7 linked regions of the Homo sapiens genome follow. The protein of the gene in region 5 purifies or fractionates together with the protein of the main gene of each other region. This does not show direct contact. Each region holds a gene or a part of one and is shown on either strand. Other genes may lie near its edges. The genes, in order: PLCD1, TRIM29, SERPINB2, MACROH2A1, RBM24, SERPINB5 and EVPL.

Region 1 (3,953 bases), on a different chromosome or scaffold from region 5:
ATTCTCAGACCCACAGTAAGTAGAACCAAAGCTAGGACTGGAGCCCAGGTCTACTGGGGCCAAGATGAGGCCCCTCTATTTTCTGTTTTTACAAACGGCACCTCTTGCAGGGGTGGGGGCAAAAGGGATTGGGTGTAGGAAAAGTTAGTGTGTATGTGGGGGGTGTTCAGTGAGGGGAGGGCCCTGGGAGGTAATGTCCTTTGGGGCACATCGGGGGACCTGCTAGAGAAGCCAGTCCAGGCATAGCCAGAATAAAGAGTGGAAGAAGTAAGGTGAAGGAAGGAGGATGGATGCTGTCGCATCAGTCTGAGGGCTTCAGAGGCACTAGAAAGAGCTGGCTGGCTCGCTCTTGAATCTAGTTCTGGCCCTATTTTCCATGACTAGGAACTACCTTATGATGCCCCCATCATCTCCCAAAGAACTACAGATGGCAACTCATAGGGCATAGAAATTTGGGGAGGGGGCCTCCTGCAGGAACATAGTACTCACTGGGTACCAGGCACTGTTCTAACTGCTGTGTAGATATTATCTCATTCAATCTTCGTAGCAACCCTATGAGGTAGATGGTATTATCCCCCATTTTACAGATGAGGAAACTGACACACAGGGAAGTCAAGGGATTCATCTGAGATGAGAAAGCCAAGACTTGAACTCAGGTACTTTGCTTTCAGAATCTATGCCAGTAAACTACATTACTTCTGCATGCATCTGGGGTGAGGACAGAAGGGACATGTCACATCTAGGTGAGCCGCATAGCTCCCCAGGCCAACAGAAGGAGTCCCTCTGGGCTCCTTCCAGAGAGTGTGGAGCCCTAGGCCAGAGAGTGTGGTCCTGCAGCACATCCAGTGCTGGGGCACCCACACTGTGAAACGGATGCAGACTCTCCAATGCAAGTGTAGACAACCTGGAACAGCACAGGGCACAGTGATCACCCCCTCCCACCAACAATTCTCCTTGACAGGTTCTTATTTCCCCATCTGGTTTGCAGTGTGGACAGAAGGCAGTTGAGGTAATTTTGGGTGATGAGCTAGAAGTGGCAGGGCCTTCAGGGAAAACAGCTTGGGGTCACAGTGTTCATGTCAACCCTTCAGGAAAGGCTGGACTGAGTTAGGCATTTGGGAGGCTGGTCTCAAATGGGGTGGGCCAGGGCAGCCAAGCCTATGCCACAGGACTGGGAGGTCCTGACTGAGCCTCCATGTGTCTTCCTCCATGGAAAAGATATCAAGGCTGCCTCAGGAGAGAAACTGGACAAAGGCACAGACACTGAGGATGAAGCCTGTTCCAACAGGAGCCAAGGAATGACGCTGTGTCAGAGAGAAAGCAGAGATGTCCACTGTGTCCTCTCAGCTGCCCAGCCTCCCTTCTTGCTAGTCTGGCAGGCGCACGAAAGACACCTCTGGCCTGAAGAAAGAAGAGGGAGCACTGGAAGGGGCAGGGACTCCATGACTCATCTAGACAAGGTGGCTTTAAGGAGCCTAGGCTATTGGTGTAAAAGCAACAGCTCTGGGCACAGAGCAAGGTCTCTCTGGGCCAGGAGGACCAGGTCTGTGCCAACTGCAGAACACGAGATAGACTGGAGGCTGGCTGATGGGAACATCTCTAAGTCCCTCTAAATTCCAGGGGGACTCTAGTGGAAGGCTAGAGGACTCTGCCCTTCTCTTTCCCATCTATTATGTCCATGAACAGTTTAGATGGATGGGTGGTGGCCACTAAAGCCTCCAACCCCAAGGGTACTAAAAAAGAGAGGGATATACAGTAAAGCAGTGATTGGTATGAAAGGAGCAGGGTTTGCTGAGATGGCAAGTGACCTGGGAGGGCAGGAGGGCAAGCCCCCACCAAGAGTGAGTGAGTGCCTGTCCTGGAGCAAAGAGGCGCCCAAAGTTACCCTCCCCAACCTCCCGCCTCCCAGAAGGCCTCCAGATCTGCCTTCGGGAGCCCAGGCTCCCCTCGCTGCTGGAGGGACAGCGAAAGGGCAAAGAGCTGGCTCATATTGGAGGAAACAAAGCTCCGCTGGACAAAGGATGGAGCAGGCAGCTCCGGCTGAGACCTGGCCCTGTCCCCCGAGGAGGGTCGCAGATGAGGGGATCGTGCTGCTTCTTTCAGCCTGAGCATCGCTGACTATTCTGCGCTGGGCAGTTAAGGCTGCACGGCCCGACCACGGTTAACCTTGCACACCTCCTCTCCCCACCCGCTTAGCCCCTGCTCCGCCACACCCGCGCGGCCTGACGCGGTCCAGGCACGCCCAGGCTTTGGGGAGCCTCTGGGGCGGCCCGGATGGGGCAAGGAGAATTTTGGTCGTTCTTGGATGCTGTTTCCTTCCTTCGCCGCCCCTCCGTGCGAGCGGGATCGTGGAGCCCAGACTTTCATGACCAGGACAAGGGGGTCCGCGAGGCGGAGGGAAGTCTTTAGACCCGTACCGCCCGCCCACCCACCCCCCGGGCTAGATCTCGGACAAGCCTGGAAACGCCCAGGGTCGTGCCCGGCAGTCCCACCCAGGGAGCCGCGGGCTGAGATTTTCCCAGTCCGGAGAAGGGGCAGAGAGGCGGGCCCGGGGTGGTGTGGAGGCGGCCGAAGGAGCTGGGGGCTCCCTGTCCAGGGCCCGGAACAGCTTTCCAGGGGTCCACCCCTGCAGGGTCTCCCGCTCGCGCGGGCCAGGCACTCACCGTGCAGGGTCAGGAAGTCCCGGCCCGAGTCCATGCCCGACGGGCGGCGCGGCGGGAGGGGCACCGCGGGACTCACTTGAGTAGCGACAGCACCGGCGGCCTGGGGTCCGAGCGGAGTGCGGTGCAGGGACCTGAATGGACCGCGGTGGGAGGAGGCCGGGGGTGGTCCCGGGACACCGCCCCGCCCCCGCTGCCCTGCGCCCCCGCCCCCTGAGCCCGCCAACCCTCGTCTCTCCCCGCCCCCTTCTGGGGACGCGAGAGGGAGGGCAGAGCTGGGGGCCCGGAGGACTGGCCAACCCTGGCCCGGGCCAGCGGGCGCGCCCCGACCAGAAATAGCCAGATTCCTCCAGCTTCCTCCGCCGCCGCCACCCACGGGCCGCGGGCCCTGTCATTACCGCGGGCGGCCGGGCCCCACGCCCTGTTGTGGGCGCCTCGCTGGGGTCGGGGTGATGCTGGAAAGAATCCGGCGTCATCCCGGGGAAGGGATCGTGTAAGGTCCGACGCCCAGCCGGGCTGCTGCGCTAGGGAGACGCGGCGTCCAGGCTTCCAGCCGCAGCTCCCAGCGTTCGCATTCCCTTCTGCGAAATGGGTGCACGGACACGATTAGAAGGTCTTCAGAGAGCAATACCTGGACCTTGTCGGGAGGAGGGTCCCCTTCCCTCTCGCTGGGAGGTTTCTAACCCCAAGAGTGCCTTTGGTGGAGTGTTGGGGGTGTGGGAGGGGGAAGCAAGCAGGTGCACGGATTTCACTTTTGAGCCACTCATATCCCAAAACCCCAGCGATCCATGCAGCCGAGGGGGAGGATCCCCAGGGTCCCTTCTTCAGGTGGCCTCCCAAGGGGCTGTCTGGGCAAGGTCCCTATGCAGACCCACCCCCTAACTCTTGGGACCCAGAAAACCCCCTTTATAGGTTGCCCAGAGACCCCTCCCACCACAGACCCTGGGAGGGTCCCTAGATCCTGTTGCCCACCACCCCTTTGGAGAGTCCCTTGGGAAAACTGGGCTCTTGGTGTCAGAGAGCCCCCAGAGGGCCTCCCAGGAAGCCACCCAGGCCTCCTGGGCTGATAAGGCCAATGTGAGAGTCAGGCAAAGCTAGTTGGACCAGCTCTGCGGGGAGGGGGCTGGGCTCACCCCAATCCCTCCTCTTCTGGGCCCTAGGTGGCCTTGAATAAGGGATGTGAAACAGCTGAAGGACAGTCTTCTGGTTCTGGGGGTTAAAAGTGGATCAGGACTTCTGGGCTTTGGAGAGCCCCCTGCTCTGCATGCCCCCTCTCCACAGACGGGGCTTCAC
Region 2 (3,500 bases), on a different chromosome or scaffold from region 5:
TTCTGCCCACAAGACTCCCCAGCCACCAAATACACACCATTTCTTCTCTACTTATGCCATTTTGGCTAAATGTATGTCTGCCATGGTTTGGGTAATTGCAAACCACAATCTGAAATCACTGCCTGCTTGACCCTGACTACATACACAGCCAGCATACACATTCATTTTCTGAATACACATTTCTACATATACATTCATTTTCTGAATAATGTTTGGTTCTGGTTAGGGTTTCAGGGAGCATATTGTGACCCATGGGAGAACTTTGGGGCCCACAGGGAATGATGGCTCATATCAACCCACCAAGAGGAAGGAGCCACAGGTAGATAAGAAGCGTGGACTGTGAACAAACCTGGCTATCTCTGTCAGTAGGTGGCATCCCTCAGTGATGCCTTTGAATGAGATTCTTGGCCAAATAGGCTTGCCAGGTTGGGGCAGTGGGAATGCCCTGATCCTGTGCTGGAAACCTAAAGACATACCCGACTAGGGTGATTTCTTTCCCTAACTAAAGCCCTGCCTAATCTCTTCCCTGACTCTGGACCTCCAGAGCTTCACCACCAATGAGAAGGCCATCCTGGAGCAGAACTTCCGGGACCTGGTGCGGGACCTGGAGAAGCAAAAGGAGGAAGTGAGGGCTGCGCTGGAGCAGCGGGAGCAGGATGCTGTGGACCAAGTGAAGGTGATCATGGATGCTCTGGATGAGAGAGCCAAGGTGCTGCATGAGGACAAGCAGACCCGGGAGCAGCTGCATAGCATCAGCGACTCTGTGTTGTTTCTGCAGGTAACAAGCCACTCCTCTGTCACTCAAGCCCTCGATTTCACAATCCACTTTTTGAGACCCCCCTCCAACATCCATCCATCCACCTATCCACTTATCCACCTATTCGTCTATCTGTTCATCCACCATCCAGCCATCCAACCATCCATCCATTCATCCATCTATCCAAGCGCCATTCTCTCTGTTTAATTTTTTAAATCCAATCCATTTCTTTACCTACTCTCAAGATGGCAAACAAATATCACCTTTTACCAACTTCAATTGATATGTGCTAGCAGTGCTCTGGGCTCAGTAGGAAAGAGTTGTGAGATCAGTGAATCGGGTAGAGGGGGAGTGGTGTAGGAGTGCTGCATATTTGTTATCTTGGATCTAGTCCGTTTGTCTATTCATCCATTCATCCTTCCATCTGCTAGAGTGTTTTAGATACTACTGCATGCCCAGTACTCTATTAGGTGCTGTGGCGAATAGAGAAGTACAAGACATGGTTTCTGCCTCCAAGCAACTGCAATCCAGCTGGGAAGATAAGACATGTACAATTAAAGAACAATATAGAAAAGTGTGTAATTAAATGATAAAGCATATGGCTCAGGAGATAAGTGCCTGTAGAAGCTCAGAGAAGGGCAGGTGGGCTGGAGGAAGCTAAGACAGCTTTGTGGAGGAGGTGGAGTTTGAACTGGGTCTTGGAGGCCGGTTAGGATTTGAGAGGGAGGACAGAGTCTTCGGTGAGGAGTAAGGGAAATGAGAAGTGCAAAGGCAGCACTGAGCATGGCGTGTAAAAGTTGAAATACCACTGTGGGCTGGGCATGGTGGCTCACGCCTGTAATCCCAGCACTTTGGGAGGCCAAGGTAGGTGGATCACCTGAGATCAGGAGTTCAAGACCAGCCTGGCCAACATGATGAAACCCCATCTCTACTAAAAATACAAAAAAAAATTAGCTAGGCATGGTGTCACACACCTGTAATCCCAGCTACTTGAGAGGCTGAGGCAGGAGAATTGCTTGAACCCAAAAGACGGAGGTTGCAGTGAGCTGAGATTCAGCCTGGGTAACAGAGTGAGACTCGCCTCAAAAAAAAAAAAAAGAAAGAAAGAAATACCACCATGGCTGACCCCAAATTCTATAGTAATTCCTTGCATTTCTTTAGTGTGTTCACTCCCAGTCTTTGCAGTTTGTGTCCCTCTCATAAACCCTATGAGGTAAACAGATGCACCCACTTTAGAGGTGGGAGTCGTGGAGTCACACATCTGAACGCTAGTGCCATCAGGGATGTTAGCATCCAGTGGCTTTTAGTTGAACCTTTTCATGTTACAGAAGAAACAAACATCCAGTGAGGAAGAGTGGGGCTTGCAGCGCTGAGACCCCCAGCTGCACTGTGAGAGCCCCTGGCAGAGAAGCGTCCTCATAGCTCATGAAGACCCAGGCAGTTAATGGTTCTTTCCTTTCTTGGTAGGAATTTGGTGCATTGATGAGCAATTACTCTCTCCCCCCACCCCTGCCCACCTATCATGTCCTGCTGGAGGGGGAGGGCCTGGGACAGTCACTAGGCAACTTCAAGGACGACCTGCTCAATGTATGCATGCGCCACGTTGAGAAGATGTGCAAGGCGGACCTGAGCCGTAACTTCATTGAGAGGAACCACATGGAGAACGGTAGGTCCCCTCTCGTGGCTGGGCCCCAAGGCCATAGACCTTTCTCTCCCAAATCAATTCCTGCTGCCTGACATGGGCTGGCCTCCAGTGAGCTTCTTCTCATTGTTCCCACCCACCCACCCACCCTTCCTCAGGCCGTTTGGACTAGGATACAGGGATTCTAACCCTCCTCCTCCTTTGAACTTGCTGCCAAAGTTATGCAACTATAGGAAGAGACCTCCAGAGCAGGGACATCCTGGGCACTGGCTCCACAAATGCCTCCTCTCTGTGGGTTGTCCATCAAACTCAGAGACTGGTTTCGTTCAGATCTACATCTAATTGCCGGGCCCAGCCCAGCAGCTGTGTGGATGCTGCCACTAGTATGGGCCAGATTCCAAACTGGTGGCTTTGCAGACTCTAGCAGACGTGACCTAGAACTGCAGCCATGCCTGGAGGGAGGACTTGCCTGTCATCATGGCCATGCTGAGCAGTGCTGAGCCCAGAGGCTGGACTTGGCCTGTTGAGCTGGGCTGGGGACGGTGGGACACAGTGTCTCTGTGACTCACCAGCTCCCTTGAAGTCAGCTCTTCTTCTGAGTCATGCTGTCCCCTCAGAGGTCAACTGAATCATCTCACAGAAAACCTCTGAACCTGAGAAACAACATCGTCAAGTCCTTTTCCACCCAGTCCCTTTAGGGCCTGAAGCCTGGGCACTTTCCCCAAGGCCCCACCCGGTGTCCCAGGCGTTGCACGGGGCCTTGAGAGTACAGCCTTGTTAATGACTGCTAGACGTGAATACCCCAAAGGAAAGGACCCCTGATTGCTCTCCAGACACAGCATATGATTCTTTGGGGGAGGAGAAGGGGGTGAGGGGGATAAAAGTGTGCAGAAGGGTTGGGGTTCAGGAGGCCATTTGTGCACCTTGGCGATGGCAATATCACATGGTGTCCCTGTGAAATGTGGGGGACATTCAATCACACACAAGGACAGATAAGCCATTTCAGCAAGACAATCATTTGGCTTCAAACGGCACTCAGATCCCGAAATCCTCCTTCTAATGACAATAGTGATGATGCTAATGGTGATGGTGACAGCTGAC
Region 3 (3,500 bases), on a different chromosome or scaffold from region 5:
GACCCTTAAATCAGGGTTCTTTGGGCTAGCACTAAAGCCTTCCTGAATCAGTGTTAAAGTCACTCAGGGAGATGTCCCTGCAAAAGTGGGACTGTGAGCTGCCCCTAGTCCACACAAAGGCCACAGAGAAAATAGTGAGGCAGTTTGGCCTGGATGGGTCTGTTGCCTCACTGTAAGGAAAAGAGCTTATATCCTAATTCCCACAGACCTATGCCATCCAGGAGCTTATATCTTTTATGTATTCTTTTCTTTCACTACAAATGTACCACTTCTAACAGCTACAGCAATTCTCAACTGTGTGGCCTCTTCTTGCCCTGATTCCCTCATCTGTAAAATGAGTACGGTAATCATCGTACCTACCTCATAATATTTTGTCTTATGTGAGTAAATTTATAAGAAGTTCTTAGAAAGATGCCTGGCTAAGGCACTAATAAGTATTGGTTGTTATTATAGCAACTGCTACTAAGTGCCTTACATAGTACCTCTAATCTTCACAACTTTCTTGCATGCTACACATTTTTATTCCCATTTTGTAGATGAGAAAACTGAGATGCAAATGGTTTCAATGTCCTCACACACATGTAGTAAGGAACAAAGCCATGACTCAAACACAGATACGTCTGTCCCCAAAGTCTGTGCTGCTTTCTCCAGCCAATAAATGTCTTTTTCTTTTTATCTGGGAAGCAATCATATTAACATTTGAATTTCAAAATCTACACATGCAACAGAGTTGTCAAAAGACGATATATATAGAGTCTCAAAAAAAAAAAGACTATATAGAATCCTCGCATAGTCCCAAAGGCTTAAAGCACTTCTTAGACACAGAAAAGCTGTCTTGTGTCCAGAGCAATCAGTTTATTTTCCTCTAGTACCAAAATCAAGATTTTTACTTTAACAACCCAGAGCACTTCATTTAGCATTTGCTCCCAAAATATATTGCTACTGATTCCTTTACATTTAAAAAACAAAAAAACCTAGGCCGGGTGCACTGGCTCACGCCTATAATCCCAGCACTTTGGGAGGCCGAGGCAGGTGGATCACAAGGTCAGGAGTTTGAGACCAGCCTGGCCAAAATGGTGAAACCCCATCTCTACTAATACAAAAATTAGATGGGCATCGTGGCAGGCGCCTGTAATCCCAGCTACTCGGGAGGCTGAGGCAGGAGAATGGCTTGAACCTGGGAGTTGGAGGTTGTAGTGAGCCAAGATCGCACCACTGCACTCCAGCCTGGGTGATAGGGCGAGACTCCATCTCAAAAAAAAGAAAGGAAAAAAGAAAAAAACCTAAGACCTGATGTTTCTAAAGCTTTTGTGCCAATTTACTATCTTTATTCTTTCAAGGCAAAAAATAAAAAATAATGGGGAAAGAATATTGCAAAAGACTACTTGTGTCAGGGAGTTGAGCAATTGAGTTTTGTTGTAAGTCTCAATGTTTAAACTGTCACAAACACAGAGATTGATTCACCCATCCCTTGTCTTCCTGCAGCAATATTGGCCAATGCTCTCTCTGTGAAACTTCAAACTTCAAATGAGGCCCACCTTACATGGGTCACCATGTGCATGGAAAGAATGTATTTACACTCAGGTACATTCTCGTGGGAAACTGGAAACCAGCCGGCGGCATCTTGGTGTGACTGCATGCACAATGCATGCGTGTCCTTAAAGCATTTAATGTTAATGTTTGTATGTGTGAATGCAAAGGAATTTTAATGATATCATGGCCACATCGAGGTCACTAACCTTGGAAGTAACATGATCACAAGAATTTTGTATGTGCTGAGTGACTATTACAGTAACGATTGCAGTGTATAATTGAAGTAGTCCGGCATAATTTCAAGGGCCCAGACTCCGTGGAAAGAGTTTCCTGACTGAGTCCACGTCCATTCACCAAGGAAGGCAGGCAGTGGCCTTGCAGAAATCCCTCACAATGATGTTGTGCATCCCATCTACCTTGGTTTTCAGGGCTGGCCATAATAATGCCAGGTCTCATTCTGCTACCGTGACCTCACAGGCATGATCTTCTGCAGCTACAACACTATCCATGCATCCTGTGGGTATAGTGAGCACCACCCTGGTATGTTTTTTTTTTTTTCCCTTTGTGATACTCTCTTAACATTATTAGAAGGAATTCTTCATAGGAATAGGGAACAAACACCACAGTGGCACAGTAATGGGAAGGAGCCCAGGCTAGGAGTTAGGAGACAGTGGGGGCTTCTCTGACACCACCAGGGCTCTCATCTGTAAAATGATATCTGTCTTAAAACTGAATGAGATAATGGGTACAAAACACTAACTTTGAAAAATAAGAATATTATATTATTAAAATATAAGATGTGGTCACTCATAACTGTGTCCAGCCTTGCAGGCTATTCAACTCCCATATGCCTTCAACAGCTACAGTTGAGGGATTCGGGGGCTTGGCTGTCTTATAGATTTGAATCTAAGGAATTTGTGTTGTAAGGATCAGTGCTTCATTACCTGTGATGATTGCTGACCTCCTGAGTTAAAATGTCTTTAGCATAAAACAAGAGCAGTTCTCCAATTCCATTCAGGAACTACTCGGCCCAAATGTGGAGCTTCAGCTCAAACTCACCTTGGCCATCTGGTCTTCGGTGCTGCCCCTGGAGCCCATGTAGACCATGGCCATGGTGGACGAGATGCTCCATGGGGAGAGGAAGAGGTTCTGGGTGGGGCTTGCTTTTGCCAGATGCTTGAATAAATTGAGGGCAAAGAGTGTGTTTGCCACACAAAGATCCTCCATTGTTTCAATCTAGAAGCAAAGAGAGGAAGAAAAAAACAGCTCTGAAACATAAGGTAACATTTTGGGTGAGGTCAGCAACAGTAGGACAGGCTGCATTCTGTGTAGGGACAGATTCCCTGTCTGTTCTTCCTCATGGAACAACATGAGGCAGGTCAGGGACAGCTTCATGGACATACCACCTGTGCAGCCGTAAAAAGCCCCTTGTTTAGCCAAATGCCCTCCTATCGCCATCTTGAAATTCTTGATAATTTTAAACAAAAGGCCCACATTTTCATTGTGCACCAGACGCTGTAAATTACATAGCCAGTCCTGAGATACATGAAGTGTTTTGTATGATGAGCAGCGACACTTTGTGGCATTCCATAGAATAACAATGACAATATATAGGGACAGGAGTAGGAATTGAAGCCAGATAGGCAGACCCTAGGATCATGCTCTCAACTTCTATGCTGCCCCCACAAGCACAACGCACACATCCACACCACACACACTGCCACACAGGAAGATATACACATATTGAAATATATGCCACCTGCATACATACCTTGTTGCATCTGGTAAGACGGTCAATCTTCTTTCTGCTTTCCTGCTTCTAAAGTGACTTTGACTCATTGTTTGAAGGTTTGGAGTTTCACCCAGCCCCTATCCCAGAACCCCTTCCCTATATGCACCACACATACCACAGCCTTACTAAAAAAGACTTCCTATACTGGGGTGTTCATTACTGGGAGGACTAGAAG
Region 4 (3,500 bases), on a different chromosome or scaffold from region 5:
CTTAATTGCCATTGGCCTCACAGTCACTCTCCCCCTTGTCATGGGTGCCTGACTGGAGCTACCCACACCTGCATAAACCTCTGAAGAGCAGGATGGACCTGGCACATTCATGGGTTTATCTGGAGACTGCACAACTATGAGTTGGTTTTCAAAAGGGTGTTTTGAAAACCACCACACATTGCTGGATGTCATAAGGCTTCATGGCTTAGTCAGAATTCTTTCATAGCTGTGGCTGCAGCTTGGGGAACTATAGTTAGAAGTGCAGGAAGAACATGGGGAGGGATAAAGTACAGAATCTCTGCAAGACAACCCCATTGGTGGGGAGACAGACTTGAGGCCGCTTTATTGGACAGGAGCCTGACTCAGAATGAGAAGTGAAGATGTTCTTCTGCCAGCAGGGTGGCACTGGAGGAGCTGTGATATTTCAGACCTTTCTTGGGATGAGTTGACTACAGTGCTTCACATCGAATGGCTTGCAGTTCAGTCAAGTTGGAGAGGCATGTGCTGGGATATATATACTATGGGAACATGGAGCAGTGAGCAATTCCAGGCTGTGGTCATGTCCACAAAGCCTCCATGGCAGAGGGAGGCTGTGAGTGTCAGTTCAGCAAGTTGACAAGAGGACAAAGGGCATTCCAGGCAGGAGAACTGCGTGTTCAGAGACATCCTTAACACAGTGTGACAGGCTCAAGAAGTCAGGGGTGGCCTGAGGCATGTGAGCCAGGGCTGGGGTGACAGGAAGCAGTGCCACCAAAAGTAGCTGAAGTATGCTGTTTGTGGCTAGCTCAGAAGCTCAGGCTGACAGGGAATCATCAGAGTAGGCAGAGCTGCTTCTGGTGTCCATGGATGAAGACTGGTGCGGTTGAGAATAGGTCAGAAGTAAAGAGGCTGAACCAACGCAGGGAGGGTGATGAGAAGAGGCCTGAGAGGTTCTGCAGGCGGTTCAGCAGAGCTTGGCTAATGCTTGGGTGCTGTGGGGTGGACAGAGAAGTCTGGGCCAGGTTCACTGCTGTTTGGCTAGTTTGGTGCATGACATTGCCACTGATGAGGCTGAGAGACCCAGAGGAGTTCAAGGCACCCATGGGACTTGTAAGTGGGCCCTTGCCATCAGCAGTCAGAACAGAGCTCTGAGGCTCAGCGGCCAGGTGTTGCACTGGCATAGAGACCTGGGAGTCACTGGCATGTTGATGTAAAGACTCAGCTAGAGTCAGAGGAGGGAAAGACAAGGAGCACCACTTTTAAGGAGTCAGCGTGTCTAGGACCTGCCAGGTCTCTGAGTGCTAACGGATCCTTTCTGGAGGAGACCACTGTCCAGTTCCCACATAGGCAGCCCCAGACATGCCCAGCAGGTCAGCTGGGAAACAAAGCTGAAGTCTGTGCTCTAGTAGGAAAAGGGCTGAGCTGCTGTTAATCATCACTGACCACAGGCCTCCCCTGCTGAAAGGGGGAGACATTCCGATTTAAAAGCTCAGTCCAAAGGCATCAGGTTGTTGGTCTGTGAAACACATTTGTAGTAAAGCAAAAGACTGCTAGGAAACCCAATGACAGCCTTGCCTGAAAACACAGGCACACATACATATACACATATCATTTCCTGCTCAGAGTGAGCACAGGCACCTTTTTGCAAGGAATGTTTTAAAATGGAGTTCATTGCAGCAAGGAAGGGATCCAACTAATTGTTTTGGAAAAACCCAGACCCTTCTGGGTCTCTCTAGCCCTCAGTGAGCAGTTAAGACTGGGTGCTCCTTGACAGGGCGCTCATGACAGAGGCCTTTACTCTTCTAACATCACTCCAGAGCCAGGGCCTCTGCCATCTTACCTCTGTTGGGCCTGTCTACACAGTAGCCCCAGAGTGCCCAGAATTCTGTTTTCTGTCCTCACAGCCATCTCTGTGGCTCATCCCAGATGATTTGAGATGCACCTGGGATTAGAGAGGTGTTAAGTGTGGACCGTGGCATGTCCTGACAATGTCCCTAGTATAGGTTGAGCATCAGAGTAACAGGGACTCCTATCCCTGTGGCCTCCAGTGGTCACAGCATTGACTGCTGGTGCTGGAAGGCCCCAAACACCATGGAGTGTGACGTCAGTTTATCAGTACATGGGAGACCTGCCCAGTTGGTTCAGTGAGCAAACATGTTCATAGGGAAGACTTTAGGGGGCCCCAGAACAGGCCAAGGCCCCTCATATCCCCTCTCCCAGCACCCTGCACTGGCCCTTTGAAGCATGCATTACGTTTATCTTTTAAATGACTAGGGGGTTATTTATTGTCTTTTTCCCCACCAGTTCCACAGGGACCACATCTGCCCAGCATAATACCTGAAGTGAATGCATAAATGAACAGGATGCTCCAAGTAAACATTCGAGACCTTGGATGGTGCTACAGTAGGAATACAGTTAGGGGCACCCCTCCACCCACCTGCAGTCTGATGGGAGAATGGGCACACGTGCATCAATGCTGTGGTGTGCAGCACATGGGGCCCTGAGGATGAAACAGCCAGATCTCAACATTTGGGAGGGCTGGCAGAAGGCAGAGGCAAGTGTGAGAGATAATGGAGGTCCCAGCCAAAGGGAACAGCTACTGCCCAGGCAGGGAGAAAAGAAGTGGAAGGGTATTTGGGGGGAACCTTGTGTGGCTCCCTGTTTGCTAGTTTAGACCACAGGTGGCCCAAGGCAAAGCTGGACATGTGTGCCAGGCCTAGATTTCTAGGGCATTACATGGCAGGCCAAGAGTCCTGGTTCTATCATGAGAATTGTGGCAGCCACAGAAAGCTTTCAGGCCAGGGCCGGGGCATGTTCAGGTGGGTGTGTACCCAGATTGCCCCACCCATGGGGTAGAGGGTGGATTAGAGGAGAGGGGGCTCTGGTAGGGAGACCTTTTCAGGAGACATTTGTGACCACTTGATTAAAATAGTGATGACCAGGATCCCATCACTGGAGGTGGAGAGAAAGAGCCCCACAAGAGGTGTAGAGGAGGGTTTTCCTCTGGACTGGGTGACTGGATGGGGATTGGGAGCAAGGAAGGAAAAAACACCTCTCTCTCTCTTCTCTAAAGATTGGCCCATCTGGTGGACTAGAAGTGCTCAGAGGGCCTCTTACTGCAACCTGACTATACACTGTACTGACTCCTGTAAGCTGTTCTTGCCTCTCACAGATAAAGAATCTAAAATAGAGACACTGCTTTCATCAGAGAATCTAGGTATCTGCCTTTACATCATCTTTTTAGGGGAGGGTGTCATAGCTGTTTTTCTTTTATGAAGCCTTTGGTAAGTTTATCAGCCCCAGTCTCAAGTGTATGAAAATGCAATTATTAAACAAGTGTATAGAATGTGGCCAAGAAATCCCATTTCCTTTTTCATCATGTGGCATAATGGCAAGGCACTTAAGTAAAATTGATGTCATGGTATAAATTGTGCAAAGCCAAGCCTTTCTTTTCAGGGATCAAACTGCTCCAGCGGAGTGCATCACCTGGACCCGGAGGGCCCTGCAGCTACAGACAGTGG
Region 5 (3,011 bases):
AGGCGGAGCTTGCAGTGAGCCGAGGTCGTGCCACTGCACTCCAGACTGGGTGACAGAGCAAGACTCTGTCTCAAAAAAAAAAAAAAAAAAAAAGGTGAATTACGAAGAGCAATTGGCTTCACTAACATTGCTGAAAAGTGGGGAGTCCAGCTCAAACCTGAGTTTAGCTGACCCGAGCACCACTGGGCTGGTCCCACTTCTGACTAGTCCTCTCTACTACTGGCCCACGCCTTCCAAGCCATCTTTCAGCTAACCAGTTTTCAGTGATACGAAGTCCTTTAGGGCTCCCCTGGTGGGACAGGGGATGACCTATATCATTTGCTAAGTATAAGGTAGATATTCAGTTAGTGAAACTTACTTTAAAGGCACAAAACCAGGACATCCAAGAGAGTATTATGCTCACTGAAAATGTTACGTATCAATCATGGCTATTGATTCAAGTTCAAAAGAGAAATCATTGACCTTTACTACAGAATTAGAAACAGCCAATGCAACAGAAGTTTTTAAAAATTATATTTAATACAAGTGAATAGATTAGAAGATCTGAAATGTTATAAAGCAATATACACAACGAATAAATAATTTGCACAGGAGAGTCATGTCTACATTACATAACACTGTCTAGTATGGGAATACTTAAAGTAAATCCAGTGATAATGGAGAAAGTCCATAAAAATGCTAACCTGTCTTCCCTTGTATGAAATTGTTCAAGTATAAAAATCCAATACAGTGTAAAATAGTATTCAATTTAGTTTAAGAATAAAAATTGCAAGTATTGCAGTTTCAGAAGAAAAATGTAAAGCAGCATTTAAAAACTACATAATAGTGTTAAACTAATGAATTACCAATAAATGAAATCTACACAGGCAAAATCAGAGGAGGAAGCATGAAACTAGCAATATATCGTTTAAAAAAAAATCTAAAAACTAAACTAAAATGTGTTAATGTAAGAGTACTCTCTTATACAGTGCACATATGAATTTAAATAAATCCAAGTCAACATCTTTAGTTGAATAGGTTAATATTTAATACGCTACATCTAGACTTACTAAATAATTTATGCCATGAGATGAATACATAATTTTACAGTGTCACATCTAAAGTTCCTTTCTTTAGAGTGCAGCATAGTAAAACTTAAAAATAAATATCTTAAATAGCATTACTATTAAGGCACAGTATAAACCACATTATCATTAACCTTTGAAGAATTGTAATCTCAGTAACCTTGTTGTCTCATGTACTGTAGTCACTAATAAATAGTTTTAAATATGACTCTGAAATAGATACTAAAGTGTAAAATTACTTAAAAAGGGAAAAAAAATAAATGTCCTTAAGACAGTTCTGCAAACTTTGCCTGCCTTTATTCATAAGCCACGAGTCGACACAATAAATAGAAAGAGAAGGCTGTTGTAGTAAAAGCCTGATCCTATTTCAGAATCAGAATTGCTGACACCAGCAGATACAAGTTTCCCAAAATTGAAACAGGATGGGGAGAGGGATTAGAATGTGACAAGCTCATCAAACAAGCACAAGTGATGTGTTCTTTCCAGAACTGTGTGTGTTATTGATTGTCTGTACAGCTGTTGCACCCATTAATTCCACATCACTTGTTCCACAGTTCCACTCATCCACAGGACAGATGAGAAAATAGCTTTGGTGCCTGTCCACCATTTTACCCACTGCCACGCTCCTAGATTGATTGTTCGATGCCCATTTTTGAGATAGTAAGAACAGGACCTTCCGACTTGAAAAAAGTTCTATAGGCCTTAAGTGACTGCTAAAAATGACAATCAGTGCTTTCGCCATTTTGTTTGTAAAAAATCTGCTTTTAAATGTAATTCAAGCTACATATTGCTCGCTCTGTATTCCCTGGTTCAACTAGATTCAAACAGCATTTTCTAACTTGTAAAAGGCAGTTTGCTTCCCTGATACTATAAAAAGAGCAAAAATAAAAATCCCGTTACAAAAGTGAAGTTCCGTTGTTACTCCTGGCGTCATTTCGTAGTGGCCTTTCATTTACTCAGGCTCTTTGGGATTGATTTCCAAAATTGTGCCCATTCCCCTCATTCTTACCTCTTTCTCATCTAGAACACTACCTGGAGTATAAAAAAAATAATAACTCTGCTTCACAATAGCATGGCTGTTTTTTTTTTTAAAGCTGTTAAGTCAATGTTAACTCTCTTATTAGCTACTAAAAATTGGAAAATTGGGAGGGAAAGAGAAAACAATTCAACTTTGATCAGATGGCTGGTCTATTGCATTCGGTCTGTCTGCAGCTGCTGAGGCTGGTACTGGCCAAATGCTGCAGCGGCAGCAGCTGCTGCAGCGGCGGCGGCAGCTGTCCCAGGTGCCGCTGCGGTGATTGGCTGCTGGACTGCGTAGCCATAGCCCCCAGCAGTAACATATCCTGCAGCAGCTGGAGAGGCTGCATAGGGGTACTGGTCATAGGCAGCAGCGGCGGCGGCAGCAGCAGCAGCTGCTGAGTATTGTGCGTATGCAGCTCCAGTGTAATCAATGTAAGGGGTGGTGGAGGCGGCAGCTGCTGTCGGCTGGACGTGTGGAATGACCACTCCCGGCTGCACAAAAGCCTGCGGATAGACATAGTGGGCAGGTATCCTGTTGAGAAATGGAAAACAAAGTCAGGCGGTAGTCACCTCCTAACTGTAGCATGTTGTTCAAAGATAAAACAAACTCAAATTTAGTGGTTATTATGAGCATAGGGTTGCCACAATATCTACTTTCTAGTGGTCCATTGAGAATACTCAGGCAGTAGCCAAAGTCATAGAGTGCCCCCAGAAGAACTGGACCCCAAAAATATGATGACACCCTCCCTGCTAGAATTGTCATGTATGATTATTTGGAGCTGCTAAGTACAGTTTATCAAGAGTTTGGAAAATAAATCAAGATTCATGAGGGCTACACACGTAAGAGAGGTTTAACAAGTGCTCAATTGATGAAGACTTTGGAAAATTTTGTAATGAGTTCATAAAATAAGAATGTTTAATTAAGTA
Region 6 (3,500 bases), on a different chromosome or scaffold from region 5:
AAAATGAAGAACCTGTTAAGAGAAAAATCCGTTACCCAAAAAGCATTGCCTCTGAGTAGTGCTGTACTGAAGTGGACACGTGATAATGACCAACGTCCTTGGGCATACAGACTCCTCCTGCCTAGTTCCCGTAAAGTAAGGCTCCTCAACCTCAGCACTATTGACATTCAGGCTGGATGAGTCTTTGTGGGGCTGTCCTGGGCACTGCAGGATGCTTAGCAGCATCGCTGACCTACTAGATGCCAGTGGCATCCTCCTCCTATTTGTGAGAACCCAGAATGTCTCCAGACATTGCCAGATTATCCCAGAGTGGGAAGGGGAGGACAAATTGTCCCCACTGAGAAACACTACCATAAAGGTACTCTTCCAAATCAACCATCGAGAACATTTGTCCTTTCTTCAAAGTGATGCCCTTAATACTCACACAGAAGGATTTCCAAACTTGGAGAACGATGAAGCTGGGTTATAATTTCTATCCAATTCAAAGACCAGAGAGAGAGATTGATACAAGAGACACCATCATCAGGCAGGAATCAGATTTCAGGACAAGTGCCTCTAGCCAGAGTCTGTCTAGTCCCTCTGGGTGCTTTAGCAAATGCCAGGTAAATAGATGTGTCATTTCTGATGGGCAGCTACAATAAATGGTGGGCTGCCCTGGGCTGGCTAGAGTCAGATGGCCCTGCCTGTGAATCCCAGCCTTCACCACCTCTTCTCCAACTCTTCAGAGAATCTTCTCCAACTCTTCAGAGCCTCCTTTCCTCTCCGTAAAATGGGCTGAAAATACCTGCTTTCCTGAGTTGTTAATGAGGATTACTTATATGTAAAACACGTAAAATATTATATGGATTCAAACTGTTAATTATTCTTGTAATAATATTGTAAGCCATTTAAAACCAGGATACTATCATTTGGAGGGCTTAAATCATTGTATTTTTTTCCTTTTTTTTTTTTATTGTTCCAACCAATAGTCCAGCATCTTTTCTGCCTTGCAACACCACAACATGTAATGTCAGCATAAGATGACACCCTCCTCGCTCCATAACTCATAATGGCCATGCTGTGATTCCACAACCCAGATAACGAACGCTGCCAAACCGGCACATTGTCCCAATGAATTACATAGCCTCAGCATTGCAGGGTCAAATGCTGGTCCCAGACAGTGCATAACTCTCATGCCTAAAGATGGATGAAGGAGACCAGAAAATTTAAGAGCCCAGGTAACTACTGCTGGGGAACCAGTTGCATATACTGAGAAGAGCTTGAGGAATTACTGAGGAACAGACCCACTACCCGGAAGTTCTCTTTCGCTGGCCTTTCTCTAATGGTAGATGAGAAATGAGGAATGGGAGATTGGGTAGGGATAGTGGAGTTGCGCAGTTCAGAGATGTGGCTTGATGTCAAGATACATCTCCTCTTCACAGGAGTGAAGCTGCTTCAAGTCCCAAGTGTAAATTCTTCATCCTTACCTAAATAACTCTTATGGGCCATACTTTCTGGACACATATGAATACAAGAAGGTGTTGCCTTTTTAAATGCTTATGAGCTAATAGAAAAGAAATTCTATTGAACCTAGAATGATTAGCATAAGAGTAATAATGAAATAGAATTAGAAGAACATTCACCTATTATGTAAAAGTACATGAGGACTTAAAACGGAACAATCAGGAAAATTGTCTCATTTGAAGGTCTAAGAACTTTACAAAGCTAGATAATCAACCATAGCCAGAAAGAAACCCTAAAACGATACAGATGCTGCTTGATTTATGATGAGGTTACATCTCAATAAAACCATTGTAAATTGAAAATATTATAAGTCAGAATGAAAAAGCTGTGATTACCCAGCAGATCTCCAGGTTCTCCATCACAGCCTGGTGCCTGTCCCAGATGTGAGTTGCATTACCTACAAGCGAGCTTTCACATTTAAAAATAAATTAAGATGCCTGTAATCCCAGCATTTTGGGAGGCCGAGGCAGGCGGATCACCTGAAGTCAGGAGTTCGAGACCAGCCTGGCCACATGGTGAAACCCTGTCTCTACTAAAAATACAAAAATTTGCCTGGCGTTGTGGCACGCGCCTGTCATCCCAGCTACTCGGCAGGCTGAGGCACAACAATCGCTTGAACCTGGAGGCTGCAGTGAGCCAACATCGCACCACTGCACTCCAGCATGGGTGACAGAGTGGGACCCTGTCTCACAAAAAAAAAAAAAAAAAAAAAAGATTAAGAGAGTCCTGGAATGGCACAGTTCTGAATCTTGACCAATTCTGGCCACAAAGTCTACATTCCTTTTTTCCGTAGGCACTGCCTATGGGTTCTAATAACTGTATTCCCACTTAAAGTAGAAACAAGGTTTTGGGGCTTACCTGTCCAATTTCATTTGCAGTGTCACCTTTAGCACCCACTTGAGCAAGTGACAGAGAGGTGGAGAGACAGATTGGAGAGAAGAGGACATTGCCCAGTGGCTCCTTTTCACATAGTTGTTTGAACAGATCAACGGCAAAAGCCGAATTTGCTAGTTGCAGGGCATCCATTGCGGGCCTGGAAGCAAGGACAAGGGAGCAGTTAGTTTCTAAAGCATCTTTAACGTCTTCTCAACTGCATTCTGCCAACACTATAAGAATTCTATTTAAACAAAGTAATTGATCTCAGAAGAAACAAGGAACTTTCTGTAAATTCAAAAGTAAGATCAGTTGTGAAGAAACTTCCAGGCAAATGTCTGAAGGCATGTGAGGTCCTCTGTGTGTCCAGCTCTGCCTAGACTCTGCAGTCTTGGGCCTGCTCAGCCACAGTGGCCATTGTCGGGAGCCCAGTGGTCACATCTCTTCTCCAGCATATGTCAGAAAAGTTGACAGCACTAATCAACATCAGTTGGTTTTATTTATCACATATTGTTTCCATTAGGATTTCAGTTAAACTACAAAGTTAAAACTTTTATAAAACAAAAACAGTCGAATTGCAGCAGTTTTGCATTGTTCAGTTTAATATTTAGTAAGTGTAATGGGTTGAATTGTGTCCCCCAAAAAGATATGTTAAGTCCTAATCCCCATTACCTGTGAATGTGACCTTACGTGGAAACAGGGTATGTCCTATTTCTTAACTAATATATAATTAGTTAAGATGAAGTTACATTGGAGTTAGGTGAGCCCTAATCCGATATGACTGGTGTCCTTAAAGGAATAAGAGGAGAGACACAGAAACAGACATACACAGAGGGAAGATGTGAAGACACAAATGTCTTCACCTGTGTGAAGGGCATGCCGTATGGCAATGGAGGCAGAGATTGGAGGGATGCTTCCACAAGCCAAAGAATGCTAAGAACTGCTGGCAACACCAGAAACCAAGAGAAAGTCATGGAACATTCTCCCCTGGAGCCTTTTGAGACAGCATGACCCTGCCGACATCGTCATTTCAAAGTACTGGCCTCCAAGCCTGTGGGTGAATAAAGCTTCTGTTGCTTTAAGCTGCCTGGTTTGTGGTGCTTTGTGAGAAGTGCTAGAAAACC
Region 7 (3,500 bases), on a different chromosome or scaffold from region 5:
TCGGCTTCCCAAAGTGCTGGAATTACAGATGTGAGCCACCACACCTGGCCCCCACGAAATTTTAATACCACAGATATGCTGTATACAGCTTAGGTGCTGTATGTGGATCTGGACTTCATGCATAAAAAGAGTTAAGATATTTTTCTGCCAGTAAGAACCAATTTTCACCCCCCTGGGAACCGCTTCACCCTGTTGAGAATGTGCCCATGCCTTTCTTTCCCTCTGGGACCGAGTGGCAACCACACAGCTCTATTTTATTTTATTTTTGAGGTGGAGTCTCTCTCTGTCACCCAGGCTGGAGTGCAGTGGACCAATCTCGGCCCACTGCAACCTCCGCCTCCTGGGTTCAAGCGATTCTCCTGCCTCAGCCTCCTGAGTAGCTCGGATTACAGGCGCGTGCCACCACATCTGGCTAATTTTGGTATTTTTAGTAGAGACAGGGTTTCACCATGTTGGCCAGGCTGATCTCGAACTCCTGACCTCAAGTGATCCACCAGCCTCGGCCTCCCAAAGTGCTGGGATTACAGGTGTGAGCCACCGCGCCCTGCCAGCTCTGTCTAGTTGGGAGGTGCAGTGCCTCTCCTGTGGGCAGGGGTGCTGTGCTCCCGCCCCTGCCGCCCCTGCCGCCCCTGCCGCCCCTGCCGCCTGCCCGAGGGCTCACCCGGCGGTAGTCCTCCACGTGCTGCAGCTGGGTCTCCTGGCAGATACACAGGTTCAGGAAGTTCTGCCACTCCATCTTCAGGGCCTCCTGGTGGGCCTGGGTACGGCAGCATGGAGCCCTCGGACCACGCCCCCCCCACGTCCGCCCCACCTCCCCCCTTCCCCGCCCACCACGTCCCTTCTCACTCTCGCCCTGCCCCAGCGCACCTGGATGGGCCCCACCGCGGGGTGCCGCAGCTCCACCATGCGCTCGCCGTCGTCCTCCAGCTGGTTCACGCTCTGCTCCTGGCTCAGCAGCTCGTGCTGCTTGAAGTGCTGGGGGCGAGTCGGGTGGGGAGCGGCGGTGAGGACCCGGATGGCCCTGGCCGCCCCCACCTGGCCCCGACCTCTGCCAGCCGACCTCGTACTCCCGCCGCACGCCCGCAGGGTCGGCCATGAGGTCGCTCCAGTCCTGCTGCAGGATGCGGCGCTGCTGCTCAGCCAGGGCGCTCAGCTGCCGCGTGCAGCCCTGGAGGTGCGTGTACAGGCTGCCCAGGCTCTGCCCGCGCCACGACGCCGCCTTCTGTGCTCAGGACCCGCCGCCAGCAGCAGGGTGGGGAGACAGAAAGTGGGGGGCAAAAGGCGCCATTGGGCCGCGCTCAGGAACACTGGCCCCGGGCAGGGTCCGGGCGGCCACCCAGGCCCACCCGCAGCCTCCCTGCCCGACCCTCCCTCCTGCTCACCAGTAGGTCTCGGTATTGGCTCCGGATGGTGGCTGCATCCTGCCTCGACCAAGGGGAGAAACAAGCCCGTGAGAGGTGGGGTGCAGGGAGACGGCCCCCTAAGATCTGGGCCAGCCATACCCCACCCACCCCTATCCCCAGGGCCCAGCCGATCTAGCTCCGGCTCTGACTGGAGAAACGGGCTGGGGCTGGCCCCGGATGTGACATCCTCCAGGCTCACCTACCGGCCCCACGAGGCTCCGCAGCTGCTGCCCATAGGCGTCGATCTCCTTCTGCAGGATGTTGTGCTCGGCGATCTGTTGCTCCAGCTCCGCCATGCCCGGCCCGTACTGGCCTGCGCAGACCTGCTTCTGCAGGAGAGCCGGCGGCTCAGTCCCCAAAGGACCGCGGTGGGGAGCCAGAGAACCCCACACGCCTCCCACCCGGAGAAGTGGACTTGGTCATTTGGGCAGAGCGTGGACGAGCCTGGGAGCAGCCCGGGTGCATGCCCTGCAGCTCCCCCAGGGGCGAGGCCATTCTGCAGTGGCCCCTGAGTCCCACTGGTTCCCAGACGCTGGGCTCAGCCTCTAAGAAGTCTCCAGCTCCATCCTGCCTTGTCTGTGACCCAGCCTCAGTGCTTCCTGCCTGGACACCACCAGCCAAGCTCTAGGGCCCTCAGAATGCCCTGCTCCAGCCGGGCCCTTCCCCACTGTCCCTCTATTGTCATGATGACACCCCTTCTGTGTGGCATCAAAGCACAACTCCTCAACCAGGGATCAGAATGTCCCATGACCTGGCTCTGCCCACCTGCCCAGAAATCCCCACTTCCCGTCGAAGCCCAGGCTTCCTCCTGGCAGGAACCTTTGCTCCTTCTTTCTGGAATTGTCCTCTCCTCACTACTTCACCCTGGCCCAACTGAGCCCTCTCACCCCTCTGAGGTCTCTTCATGTACCTCCTCCTGCAGGAAGTCTTCCCTGACTGCACTGTCTACTCTGCTGTCTCTCTGCCCAGACCCCTGAGCCACCCCTACACCCTGACTATTCAAGCCTGCAGTCAGGCCCTGGATTAAATGCAGTTCCGTATCGCCCTCTGATCACACTGGGGTGTGACTTTGAGTTCCTGACCTGTTTCTGCTCCAGCACGCGTGCCCAGTCGACCCTGGGTCCCACGTCGGGGGGCAGCACCATCTTCTCGTACAGGGCACGGTACTCCGCACACTCCTGGGTCACCCGCTCGTGCAGCTGCTTGATGCTGTCAAGAAGGTGGCCGGCAGGTCAGGGCTGGACCTGGGTCTTCCCCAGGGACCCCCAGCCCTGCCGCAGCTCCACTCACTCCTTCTCAATCTCCTCAGCCTGCGGGTGCTTGAGCCGCCGGGCCTTGTCCACGTCCAGGAAGAGGTCCTTGAGCAGCACCTCAGCCTCCTTCAGGCTGCGGCCCGTCTCCTGCTGGTGCTGCAGGGCCTGGCTCTGCTCACTGTTCAGCCGGTCCTGTGGGCAGGAGATGGGCAGACTGGCCAGGGCCCAGAGCCCCCACACCCCTGCTGCCCATCACTGTGGGCCTGAGCCCCAACTTTGGGACCCCAGCTATGCTAGCCAACCTTGAGGCCCACGCCAGGCACAGGGTCAGGACCAGGGCGTCCGTGGGGCAGGTGACAAGGACACAGGGGAGCCCAGAAAAGAAGGAAGCTGAGCCCTCTCTCCCACCGTGTGTTAGGGGATGGGCGGTGCAGGACAAAGGTCATCTGTCCCATCTTCACCATCACCAAGGGGCACTCAGGGAGTGCCAGGCCTGATGATGGGCCTCCCATGCCACCCAGCCTGTCCACGCCCTGCCAACTGCTGCCGGGGCCTCACCTGCTGCAGCCTCTTCTGCGTCTCCAGGATGTCCCGCTCCACCTGGTCGGCGTTGGCTTGCATGCGGGAGATGAGAAGGGCCAGCTCCTGGGTGGCAGCCCTAGTGTGTGGAGGGGACAGCGGGTAGCTCGGTGGAAGAGGCCCCTCTGTGCCCCATCCAGGTGGCATCCCCTGCCCTCCCTCCACCCCATCCTGCCCCCACAGCCTAGCTCACTGCCCTGACTTTGGGGTCTCTCTCTGCAGAAGGCTCTGTGAGCTAGTCCTGGTTGGGGGTGTTAGCACTGCC

The links.
Region 1: the proteins of RBM24 (region 5) and PLCD1 purify together in Homo sapiens (affinity purification with mass spectrometry; 3 studies listed by BioGRID and IntAct, with this or other methods). This does not show direct contact.
Region 2: the proteins of RBM24 (region 5) and TRIM29 purify together in Homo sapiens (affinity purification with mass spectrometry; 3 studies listed by BioGRID and IntAct, with this or other methods). This does not show direct contact.
Region 3: the proteins of RBM24 (region 5) and SERPINB2 purify together in Homo sapiens (affinity purification with mass spectrometry; 3 studies listed by BioGRID and IntAct, with this or other methods). This does not show direct contact.
Region 4: the proteins of RBM24 (region 5) and MACROH2A1 purify together in Homo sapiens (affinity purification with mass spectrometry; 2 studies listed by BioGRID and IntAct, with this or other methods). This does not show direct contact.
Region 6: the proteins of RBM24 (region 5) and SERPINB5 purify together in Homo sapiens (affinity purification with mass spectrometry; 3 studies listed by BioGRID and IntAct, with this or other methods). This does not show direct contact.
Region 7: the proteins of RBM24 (region 5) and EVPL purify together in Homo sapiens (affinity purification with mass spectrometry; 3 studies listed by BioGRID and IntAct, with this or other methods). This does not show direct contact.

The regions. Positions count from the first base shown.
Region 1 is NC_000003.12:38,026,843-38,030,795, forward strand, and holds the start of PLCD1 (1-phosphatidylinositol 4,5-bisphosphate phosphodiesterase delta-1), read right to left. Parts: upstream 2,801-3,953; 5' UTR 2,698-2,800; coding exon 2,664-2,697; intron 1-2,663. UniProt on the Homo sapiens protein: The production of the second messenger molecules diacylglycerol (DAG) and inositol 1,4,5-trisphosphate (IP3) is mediated by activated phosphatidylinositol-specific phospholipase C enzymes. Essential for trophoblast and placental development.
Region 2 is NC_000011.10:120,124,614-120,128,113, reverse strand, and holds part of TRIM29 (tripartite motif-containing protein 29), read left to right. Parts: intron 1-544; coding exon 545-778; intron 779-2,224; coding exon 2,225-2,423; intron 2,424-3,500.
Region 3 is NC_000018.10:63,890,705-63,894,204, reverse strand, and holds part of SERPINB2 (plasminogen activator inhibitor 2), read right to left. Parts: exon of another isoform or gene 3,305-3,500; intron 2,770-3,304; 5' UTR 2,761-2,769; coding exon 2,593-2,760; intron 1,585-2,592; exon of another isoform or gene 1,486-1,584; intron 1-1,485. UniProt on the Homo sapiens protein: Inhibits urokinase-type plasminogen activator. The monocyte derived PAI-2 is distinct from the endothelial cell-derived PAI-1.
Region 4 is NC_000005.10:135,389,232-135,392,731, reverse strand, and holds part of MACROH2A1 (core histone macro-H2A.1), read left to right. Parts: intron 1-3,500. UniProt on the Homo sapiens protein: Variant histone H2A which replaces conventional H2A in a subset of nucleosomes where it represses transcription. Nucleosomes wrap and compact DNA into chromatin, limiting DNA accessibility to the cellular machineries which require DNA as a template.
Region 5 is NC_000006.12:17,291,361-17,294,371, reverse strand, and holds the end of RBM24 (RNA-binding protein 24), read right to left. Parts: intron 2,617-3,011; coding exon 2,253-2,616; coding exon of another isoform or gene 2,240-2,252; 3' UTR 501-2,239; downstream 1-500. UniProt on the Homo sapiens protein: Multifunctional RNA-binding protein involved in the regulation of pre-mRNA splicing, mRNA stability and mRNA translation important for cell fate decision and differentiation. Plays a major role in pre-mRNA alternative splicing regulation.
Region 6 is NC_000018.10:63,483,458-63,486,957, reverse strand, and holds part of SERPINB5 (serpin B5), read right to left. Parts: intron 2,537-3,500; 5' UTR 2,530-2,536; coding exon 2,362-2,529; intron 13-2,361; coding exon 1-12. UniProt on the Homo sapiens protein: Tumor suppressor. It blocks the growth, invasion, and metastatic properties of mammary tumors.
Region 7 is NC_000017.11:76,020,807-76,024,306, forward strand, and holds part of EVPL (envoplakin), read right to left. Parts: intron 3,315-3,500; coding exon 3,215-3,314; intron 2,849-3,214; coding exon 2,694-2,848; intron 2,613-2,693; coding exon 2,486-2,612; intron 1,733-2,485; coding exon 1,607-1,732; intron 1,422-1,606; coding exon 1,383-1,421; intron 1,223-1,382; coding exon 1,061-1,222; intron 976-1,060; coding exon 868-975; intron 758-867; coding exon 662-757; intron 1-661. UniProt on the Homo sapiens protein: Component of the cornified envelope of keratinocytes. May link the cornified envelope to desmosomes and intermediate filaments.